Linked DNA regions of Homo sapiens: region 1 is linked to region 2. The links come from fine-mapping of genetic effects on gene expression. A gene starts in region 2. The other region holds a variant in brackets. All regions are shown on one strand. Distances are between the middles of the regions. Region 1 holds the start of KLC1 (kinesin light chain 1). Region 2 holds the start of XRCC3 (X-ray repair cross complementing 3).

Region 1 (4,374 bases), 88 kb after region 2:
AATTTCACTACTTTTACGCTTTATTTTAATTTTCTTAAGGAAAAGGGTACACCCAATTTTACATGGAAAAAGCATTCCAGGACGGAGGCTGCTTCAAGTTTAGTTGGAGCAACGCCAGCCTAGGTGAACAGGGTCGCCTGAAACGTTTCGCATCTGGTTACTGAAAATAAGGGGTCGCCAAGGAGGCAAAGCGGAGCCAGCTCTCGGGAGGGACCCGGCCCCCCGCCGCCCGCGAGAATGACAGGCGCGTCCGCTCAGGGCGGTGCCGGGAGAGGCGGGGGTGGAAGGAAGAGGAGGAATCGGACAAAGCCAGCCCCGCCGGGCCTCCGGCCTCCCCGCCCGCCGCGATCCCGGGGTCAGCCACCTCCCCTGTCGCGGGTTCCCGGGGTCCACAGCTGTCCCCGGGAACGGCCGCCGCCGCCCGCAGCAGGGCCAAGCCGGGGATGCGGGGCCAGGGCGGGGCCCTGGGCAGGGCCGGGGACCGGAACCTGCAGTGGGACGCGGATGGGGAGGACGCGCGGCGCCGGGAGCCGGGGCTGGCAAAAGGGCCGGGGACAAGAACCCGACCTGAACCTGGAAGGGGTCGCGGACCGGCCGGGGCGGTGAACTGGGGCGGGTACCGGGGTGGGAACGGAGAGGGGCCGGGACCCAAACCGGGAAGGAGGCCTGGATGGGGACAGAGTTACGGCCGGGGCGGGTCCGAAGAGGAGCGGGACAGGGACGGGGCGGAGGATGAGGAGGGGGCCGCGGTCCGGGGCGCACGCCGGGGACTCACCGCCTTGCTCCTGAGGGCCGCGCTCTCTCGCGCTGTCAGCACCTGGAGCGCCGCCGGGCGCGCGCGCGGAGCAGCGACTGTGCGCCGAGCCCGCCTCGGCTGTGTGAGGCACGGCGCAGCAGTCACCAGCTAGGGGCGCCGGAGCTACCGCCCCGCAGCATCCTCGGCCACCCACGCGCTGTCCCCTTGGCCGCCGAGCACAGCCCCGCGGCTCCTCGCACCAGCAGCCCAGCCGACCCAGCCAGTCCCGCTCGGCCGCCTGCGCCGCTCCCGCCGCCGAAAATGGCGTCTCAGTGTTGCTCCCCCCGGCGCCCCGCCTCGCCCCGCCCCACAATGCCGCGCGCCGGCATGACGTCATCGCCCCTCGCCCCGCCCGGGGCTGGGGAAACTGAGGCTGGGTGGCTCCCCGCAAGCGCTCGGCGAGCTGGGGACTGGAGGGGCGAGAAAGTTGTTTGGGTATCAGGTGGGCGGTCACAGGGAGGAGGGTGACGGTGCAGGACCCAGCGGGCCTCCCGGTTGTAACGCGGACGGGGGTGGGGCGCTCGGGGCAGGGCGCGGCTCGCGGGGTGGGCGGCCAGGCCCTGGCCTCTCCGACTCCGCAGCCGCGATGACCGAGCGCTTCGGCAGCTTCCCTTCCAGCCGGACTGTGGGCCCTACCAGAATGCGGCCGGGGACGGTGCAGGCCCGGCCGCAGCCGCCACCACTGGGCTCCCGCCCCACCCCACTCCCAGGCCCGCGAGCTTCATGCGCTCGTTTCGGTCCCCCCAAAACCCAGCTAGGAGGCCTTCGGGAGGCCCCGGAATCAGATGATCCCGGCCAGGCCTTTCTCCCTCCTCCAGGAAAACCGACAGCCTTTGGTCGAGACCCTGACCTCTAACCCTGCGCCCTCCCCTTCTCATTATTCCCTCTCCTCGGGGCTTTTGGACCCTCGTATCTGTACGAGGAAACTTTCCAGGCGCTCCCCCTCGACACAAACTGCGCCTCAGACGGGCAAAGGGGAAGGGCCGGGGTGTAGACTGTGAGGGTGGGAGACAACCCCCCTCTGTCCCCACGCAGCCACCGGCGCATCTCCCTGGCTGCAGGGCCTCGACCTCCAGCCCGGCCTGAAGGGCAGCGGAGCGCGCCTGGGTCAAGTCCTGCGGCTTCGCCGGCTCCGCAGGCCTGACTCAGCAGCCAGCCGGGAGGGCATGCTGATTCAATGGGCGAGGCTCCGCTCGCTGCTGCCAGCGGCTTGGGAAAAACCCTCCCAGTGCCTGCAGACGTCCCAAGTGCGGGGCCCGGAGGCATCATTTAACCTGGAGGGGTTCCTGGGCCAGTCCCCCAGCCCCATCTTGTGAACTGCTGTTCCTTTCCGATGTTATCACCCAGCACCAGCAGCCCTTTGTGAACCCTGCAGTTAGGCCCCGCAGTCACCAGAGAAGCAAGTGCTCCTCGGTTTTTCCAGGGAGGTCTGGTTACTTTTATCTCATTTATAAAGACAAAGGGGGAGCTCCTAGGTAACACGGTAGGGTTGGCCCGGGGAGAGGCACTGAGTCAGGGTCAAACAAACTTTCTCCATACCACTTTCAGGTTAGTGATTTCAGCCAGACTGCAGCTTGGATGTCACTAAGTTCAGCCACTGGGCTGGGCACCGCCAAGCATCGACTGCTCATTCTTTCTGTGCCGCTGCGCCCAGTAACTGTCCCCTCTGCTCACCCACAACCCTAGCCAGAAACCTGGGATGCCTGCACCGCTCCCTTACGCCCT[A/G]CTACAACAGGTGGAAAAGATTCTACTTCCTCAATATTTCTTTGAGTTAGGGTATCTTTGTCACCCTGACTGGAGGGCAGTGGCAATCAGCTCACCGTAACCTCGAACTCCTGGGCTCAAGAGATCCTCTTGCCTCAGCCTCCCAAGTAGCTAGGGACTACAGGTGTGCACCACCACTCCCAGCTAATGTTTTTTAAATTTTTTGCAGAGAGGAGATCTTGCTATGTTGCCCAGACTGATCTCGAACTCCTGGCCACAAGTGATCCTCCCAGCTGGCCTCCCAAAGTGCTGAGATTACAGGTGTGAGCCACCATGCCCGGCCTCTCAGTATTTCTTGAATCCATCTCCACTGCCACCACTTTGTTCTGGCTTTATTACCTTGTTCTTTTATTTCCTCAATAAATATTTGTTGCTCTCCCATGATCCTCATAACAGCCAAGGATGCATAGGTGAACAAGATAGATAAGATCTCTGCTTTCTAAGAGTTTACATTCCAGTGAGGAGAAGTAGGCCATAAACACATAAGGAAATACCGGATCTTGCCGAGATGATGGAACAGGCAGAGATGGAACAAAGATGATGGAACAGGCAGAGTCTAGGTGGTCAGGGGTGAACTCAGAGGCAGGCGGGTGACCTGAGACCCAAATGAGAGGAGGGAGGCAGGCGTTCAAAGCCCCAGGAGAGGCCGGCGAGGTGGCTCACGCCTGTAATCCCAACACTTCAGGAGGCCGAGGCAGGTGGATTGCCTTCAGGAGTTCAAGACCAACCTGGGCAACACAGTGAAACCACATCTCTGCTAAAATACAACAAATTAGCCAGGCGTGGTGGCGCACGTCTGTAGTCCCAGCTACTCGGGAGGCTGAGGCAGGAGAATCGCTTGAACCTGGGAGGCAGAGGTTGCAGTGAGCCAAGATCACACCACTGCACTCAAGCCTGGGCAACAGAGCCACATTCTGTCTCAAAACAAAATAAATAAAAGCCCCAGGAGAGCTCTGAGGGCAGGAGTCCTCAGGCAGGAATGACCCTGGAGTGTTGGGGGAAAGGAGAAAAGGCCAATTCATCCACCAGTGCTGCCACGCATCACTGTCTGCAGCAACTTCAAATTCCTTGGGTTGGTCAACAAGGCCCCCAGGGCCTGGTGCTGCCAACCTCCTGGTCTCCTGTGCTCTGAACACCCTTATCTGTTCCTGAGTTCACCCTGGTCTCTCACATAGCCATGCCCCTGTACATAGTATTCACTGTGCCTAGAATGTTCTCCCTCCCCCATTCCCCCCAGTGCTCCAGGATTCAAATGATCGTCACTTCCTGGGGGAAGCCGCTTCTGACAGCACCTGCCTGGGTCAAGGCCTCCTCTGACCACCCACCTGTCCCTTCCCCAATGTGTAGTATGTGGTCAGCTTACACAGCTGCCTTCTCCTCAGCCTGTAAGCAGAGAACAGGAGGGGCTGGTGTCCTCTTCCCCACAGCCTGCTCAGCACCTGACGCAGCTGCAAGGGCAACCCTCAAGCAAGCATGAGAGGAGGGCTGGGCTGCTGCTTCTCCAGGCTTCCTTTGCACAGAGATGCTGCTCTTGCTCCCTTTTCAAGGGGAGCAGACTCTTCGGGTCCCTTAAGTCCCTGACTTCTGCCATGATCCTCAGGAGATCCTGCAGTCCTTGGAGCCGTTAGCAGCTCCTAGGTTGGGCTCCTAAGGTACTGCCTGGGGTTAAAAGGCATGGACAACCTGGGCAACATAGTAAGACCCTGACTCTACAAAAAAAATTTTTTTTAATTATCCAGGCATGGTGATGCACCCTTATAGTCTCAGCTACTCAGAAGGCTGAACTGAGGTGGAAGGATCACTTGAGCCCAGGA
Region 2 (4,374 bases):
AGCTATTGCACCTAAAGCTGGACTTTATTCCAAATCTTCCAGCCCTTACTGCCCCGTTCTAAGTTCCTCCAGAACACTGTCTTTGGTCGTTTCTGGCCTGTAAGACCATGCTCCAATACAATTCACAACGCAAAACTCAGAGACAAAGTCCATCTTATTAGAATGGTTTCTCTGTCCCCCAAGCCCACCCAATGCTAGGACCTCCCTCAGCTGCTCAGATCCCAGTTAATCATCCAAACATGGTGGGGGGCTCTGGAGGGGTATCCTGCCACCACGCCAGCGTGGGAATGAATCTTCTCTTCCACGAGGGGTGCCACCTTGACTCAAGTGTTTCAACTCCACTCAGTCGGAAGTCACCGCGGGACTGCCACACAGTGCCTCAGCAGAGGCCACAAAGAAAGGCAGGGAAAAATGCTAAACAATTCAGCTGATACCAGAAGGGCTCTGGAAGAGAGAATGAAGGAGGGGAACACAGTGGTTCACTATAAAACAGAACCGTAAGATCAGTGCATGTGTACAGCAGGGAGAAAGAAATTGTGCTTTGGTGGAAACCTCTGCCTCATCTTGGCCACACTTTCTCACGTGCTCCTTACGGTTCATACAGACGTAGAGTATTTCTGTGCTATTAAGAGTTCGTTACACCATAAATACAATTTTCACGTGTCAACTTAAAAGTAAATTTTAAAAAAGATGAAGGAGGATGATTGGCGGAAAGTGTCTAAAAAGACTCCTCATGGTGGCGATACTGGGGAGAGGTGGGCAGCACTGGTCTCAACTCTCCAGGACACGCTCAGTGACCGGTGATGGCTCCGTACACTGTAGATGCCAGAGACACTTCCCCAGAGTCACTCGAATTCCGTCCTGTCCCCGAGGCTCTGTGGCCGCTCACCCCCCACCAGGCCTCCAACCAAGCTTCAATGAACCCAGTCAATTAGTGCTACTTTGACTTCTTGAACCTAGTTCCAACGTCTGCTTAGTTCTATCACTGAGGGAATTAAACGAATCTGTAACACGTGTTAAGTATGAAAGTCATATTACAAAAATTCTTTTTCTCCCCCAATTTTTTTTTTATCGTGGTAAAATCCACAGAACAGAAACTGGACACACCTGTTAGCGCACAGCCAGTGGGATTAAATGCACTCGGGGCCTTCCCAGTTGGCCAAGGGGCTGGTGTGAGGCAAAGGCACCTCCGATCAGGTCACAGGGAACCCCACGGGAGGCCCAGCGGATGGCCTGGCTCAGGGACCCCACGCCCACGCCCCAATGTCTGCAGGAGTGGCCTGGGCAACTCCTGCCGTGTCTGGGCCCATGGGAAACGGGTGCAAATCTGCGGTCTCCTTCAAACTGTCCAGTGGGCGACTGCGACCTCGCTTCCGAGGTGGAGGGTGGTATAGACGAAGGGAAACGGGGGGCAGCCTGGCCCGCAGACTGGGTCCTGGCCCTCCTTCCGAGCAGGAGGTGGCTTCGGAACCGGCCACCCGCCCGCGGCACCGACGCCTCCCCCGGTTCCCGGGAGGGACCCCTGCGGGGCCGCCAGCTCCAGCGCTTCCGCGGACAGCACGCGCCCTCCCCACCGAGCCTGCGAGGAAGGCGCTCCGCCTTCCACTTTCTCGGGAGCGAGCCCCAGCTCTCGGGACGCAGTCCACACGCGCTAGCCCAGCACGAACCGGCCTCGGGCAGGGCCGCACCCACCCCCGGGACCAGCCCGCGCCCCGCACCCCGCCTCCCGGCGCCCGCCCTGGACAGGTGCCTCCTGCCCTCCCGGGACCCCCGCACCGGGACACCGCGCGCCTCCCGCCCTCCCCGCGGGCGTAGGAGCCTGAGGCGGCGGCCCGGGGACGCGGCCAACCTGGGAGAGAGCGGGGGCGGGGGCCGGCTGGGGAAGGGGCCGCCCGGAGGCGGAGGGGTCGTCGCGGGAGCCTGGAAGCCCGCGGGGCCGGGCCGGGGCGGCGGGGCGGGTCGGAGGCGCTGGCCGGGGCGACGGCCACCCACCTCCTTGTCCGGGACCCACTGCGGCTCCTCCAGGCCGAACGGGCTTCCGAAGGCGCGGTGTTCGGGCACCATGCGCAGGCCGCTCGGGGAGCGCACCAGCTTCTTGGCGTCGCGGCGCGCGGACACCTCGGAGGACATGACGCCGCCTCAGCCTCTCGGCCAGCGGCCCCGCACCCGGCCCCTCGCCCAGCCCGGGGCACCGCCCGCCCCGCCCCGGTCCGCGCGCGGCTGACAGCGCCGGCGTCCAATCGCCAAGCCCGCCACGGAGCGCGGACTAATCGGAGCTTGAACTCCGCCCCATCGCTGCCCTCTCCAATCCGTGTAAGGGCACCGCCCCTGCAACCCTGAGGTCGATCACCAATCGGCGGCGAGGGCTGGCCCGGGTACGCTCCGCCCCTCTCAGGGAGATTGAGACTTTGGATTGGTTAGTTAGTCAGTCACGTTAGCGCCGCTTCGTCTCTGATTGGTGTAGCCCACTCAGGGTGCTAGGCGCCTATTGGAGGAGAAGGCCGAGAGGAGCAGGACGGCGGGAAGAGGAGTGCGGAACCCGCGGGAGGTGAGGCCCGCCGAGCCGGGCTGCGAGCCGGGCTGCGAGCCGGGCGGCAGCGGGGTCGGAGGTCGTGGGCGGCAGCGGGCGTGAGGGGTGAGGCAGGGTCAAGGGGCGGGGGCGGCCGCGGGTCTCCATTGCCCGAGCCTGTGGGAGCAGGCGGGCCTGGGGCTGCAGCACTCACCCCGGGAGCCCCGCCGCAGCTCGGGTAGCGTTCAGGCACCTCGCCGGGGCCGGGCCGCGTGCGTTCGGAGCGGGGAAGGCGGTCTCCGGGGCCCCCGGTGCGCGCGGGGAGGCGTCCGCTCAGGGGAGGCCGAGGTGGGCCCGCGGCTGCGCCCCCGGCCTTCGATGCCTTCGCTCGTCCGCCTGGGACCGCGCTGGCTTCGCATCGAAGTGGGAGAGGTCTGAACAGTTATTTTAATACTTTGATTTGGAAAGAAAATCCTTTAGGCCGGGCGCGGTGGCTCACGCCTGTAATCCGAGCACTTTGGGAGGCCGAGGCGGGCGGATCACGAGGTCAGGAGTTCAAGACCAGCCTGGCCAACATGGTGAAACCCCGTCTCTACTAAAAATACAAAAATTAGCTGGGTGTGGTGGCACGTGCCTGTAATCCCAGCTGCTTGGGAGGCTGAGGCAGGAGAATTGTTTGAACCAGGACCCGGGAGGCGGAGGTTGCAGTGAGCCGAGATCACATTACTGCACTCCAGCCTGGGCTACAGAAAAAGACTCCATCTCAGAAAGCACACAAAAAAAAGAAGAAAATGTTTGTTCATCCTGCCTTTAATTCCTTATTACAAGGCGTGAATTTTTATTGTTTTTTTTGAGACAGTCTGGCTCTGTCATCCGGGGTGGAGTGCAGTGGCGTCTTCACAGCTAGGCACAACCTCGACCTCCCAGGCTCTCAAGTAGCTGGGACCGCAAGCGCCACTACACTGGCCAGCTATTTTTCTTTTTTTTTTTTTTTTTCGGTAGAGAGTAGGTCTTGCTGTGTTGCCCAGGCTGGTCTTGAACTCCTGGGCTCAGGCGACCTTGGCCGCCTTGGCCTCCCACGGTGCTGGGATGACAGGCATCAGCAGTGTTGAAGCCTGTGAGGTGGGGTCCCTGTGGCTGACTCTGCCCTCTCCTGGGGCCATTGGCAGTGCAGGGGTCCTTGTGTGTGGAGGAAATAAGGAGATGATCAAAGTATGATTCCACGAATCACACGGTTTATTGTCAAAGAAGATTTGTTCTCGGGTTCACAGTGCTCAGAGGGGAGGAGAGGGGAGGAGGTGAAGACACCTGGCAGGGAAGCAGGGCCTCCATGGATGGGGTGCATTCACGGCAGGGAGGTGAGTGGCAGAACGGCCAGGGTCCGGTTGCTCTGCTGGGATGGAGCGGGCCCCTGGAGAGTGAGATCTGGTGAGAGTTCGAGGTTTGCCTTGGTAGCAGTGGAGAGCGTGAGAGCGGGAGCTCTCTGAGAAGCTGGGACCGAGGTCCAGCTCCCAGGCCAGCAGCGTATAGCTTGCCTCAAAGCATCTGCACAACCTTCAAGCTGATGTCTGTTTTTGCAGTCCAGCAGTCAGGGTCAGTAACTCACATAAGGGAGTGTCTGACAAGGTTTAAGTGGCATTCCCAAGGTTGCGGAGTTCACTCAAGTCCTCACATATGTGGTCTGATAAGACATCACACTCTTGCAGGGGGGTCAGGTCACCCCAAAACATCAGACTATGTAAGTGCTGTGAATCACTTCAAAGCTACACAGCAGGTCCCAGGGCCCAAGGCAGAGGAGTGAGTCCACCTCGGAAGGCTCAGAGCAGCTCCAGGCAGTAACCACGGCATTTCCAGAGTCTGGTGTG

The links.
Region 1: its variant is fine-mapped to the expression of XRCC3 in whole blood (TOPMed, PIP above 0.99).

What each region holds. Positions count from the first base shown.
Region 1 is chr14:103,625,896-103,630,269 of GRCh38, reverse strand. It overlaps KLC1 (kinesin light chain 1), which reads right to left and starts at 1,059. Exons shown (of 17, transcript NM_001394837.1): 1 at 776-1,059. It overlaps LOC105370688 (a long non-coding RNA gene), which reads left to right and starts at 1,127. Exons shown (of 3, transcript XR_944248.2): 1 at 1,127-1,238; 2 at 2,345-2,531; 3 at 2,730-2,768. RefSeq lists silencers at 312-491, 532-581, 672-791, 842-1,201, 1,292-1,491 and 1 more and an enhancer at 1,932-2,021. The variant A/G (reference allele first, on the strand shown) is at 2,522.
Region 2 is chr14:103,713,598-103,717,971 of GRCh38, reverse strand. It overlaps XRCC3 (X-ray repair cross complementing 3), which reads left to right and starts at 2,521. Exons shown (of 10, transcript NM_005432.4): 1 at 2,521-2,548. ZFYVE21 (zinc finger FYVE-type containing 21) reads right to left here and starts at 2,162. Exons shown (of 7, transcript NM_024071.4): 1 at 1,993-2,162. The coding sequence starts at 2,130. RefSeq lists silencers at 1,349-1,428, 1,489-1,558, 1,659-1,738, 1,929-2,498, 2,579-2,838 and an enhancer at 3,035-3,720.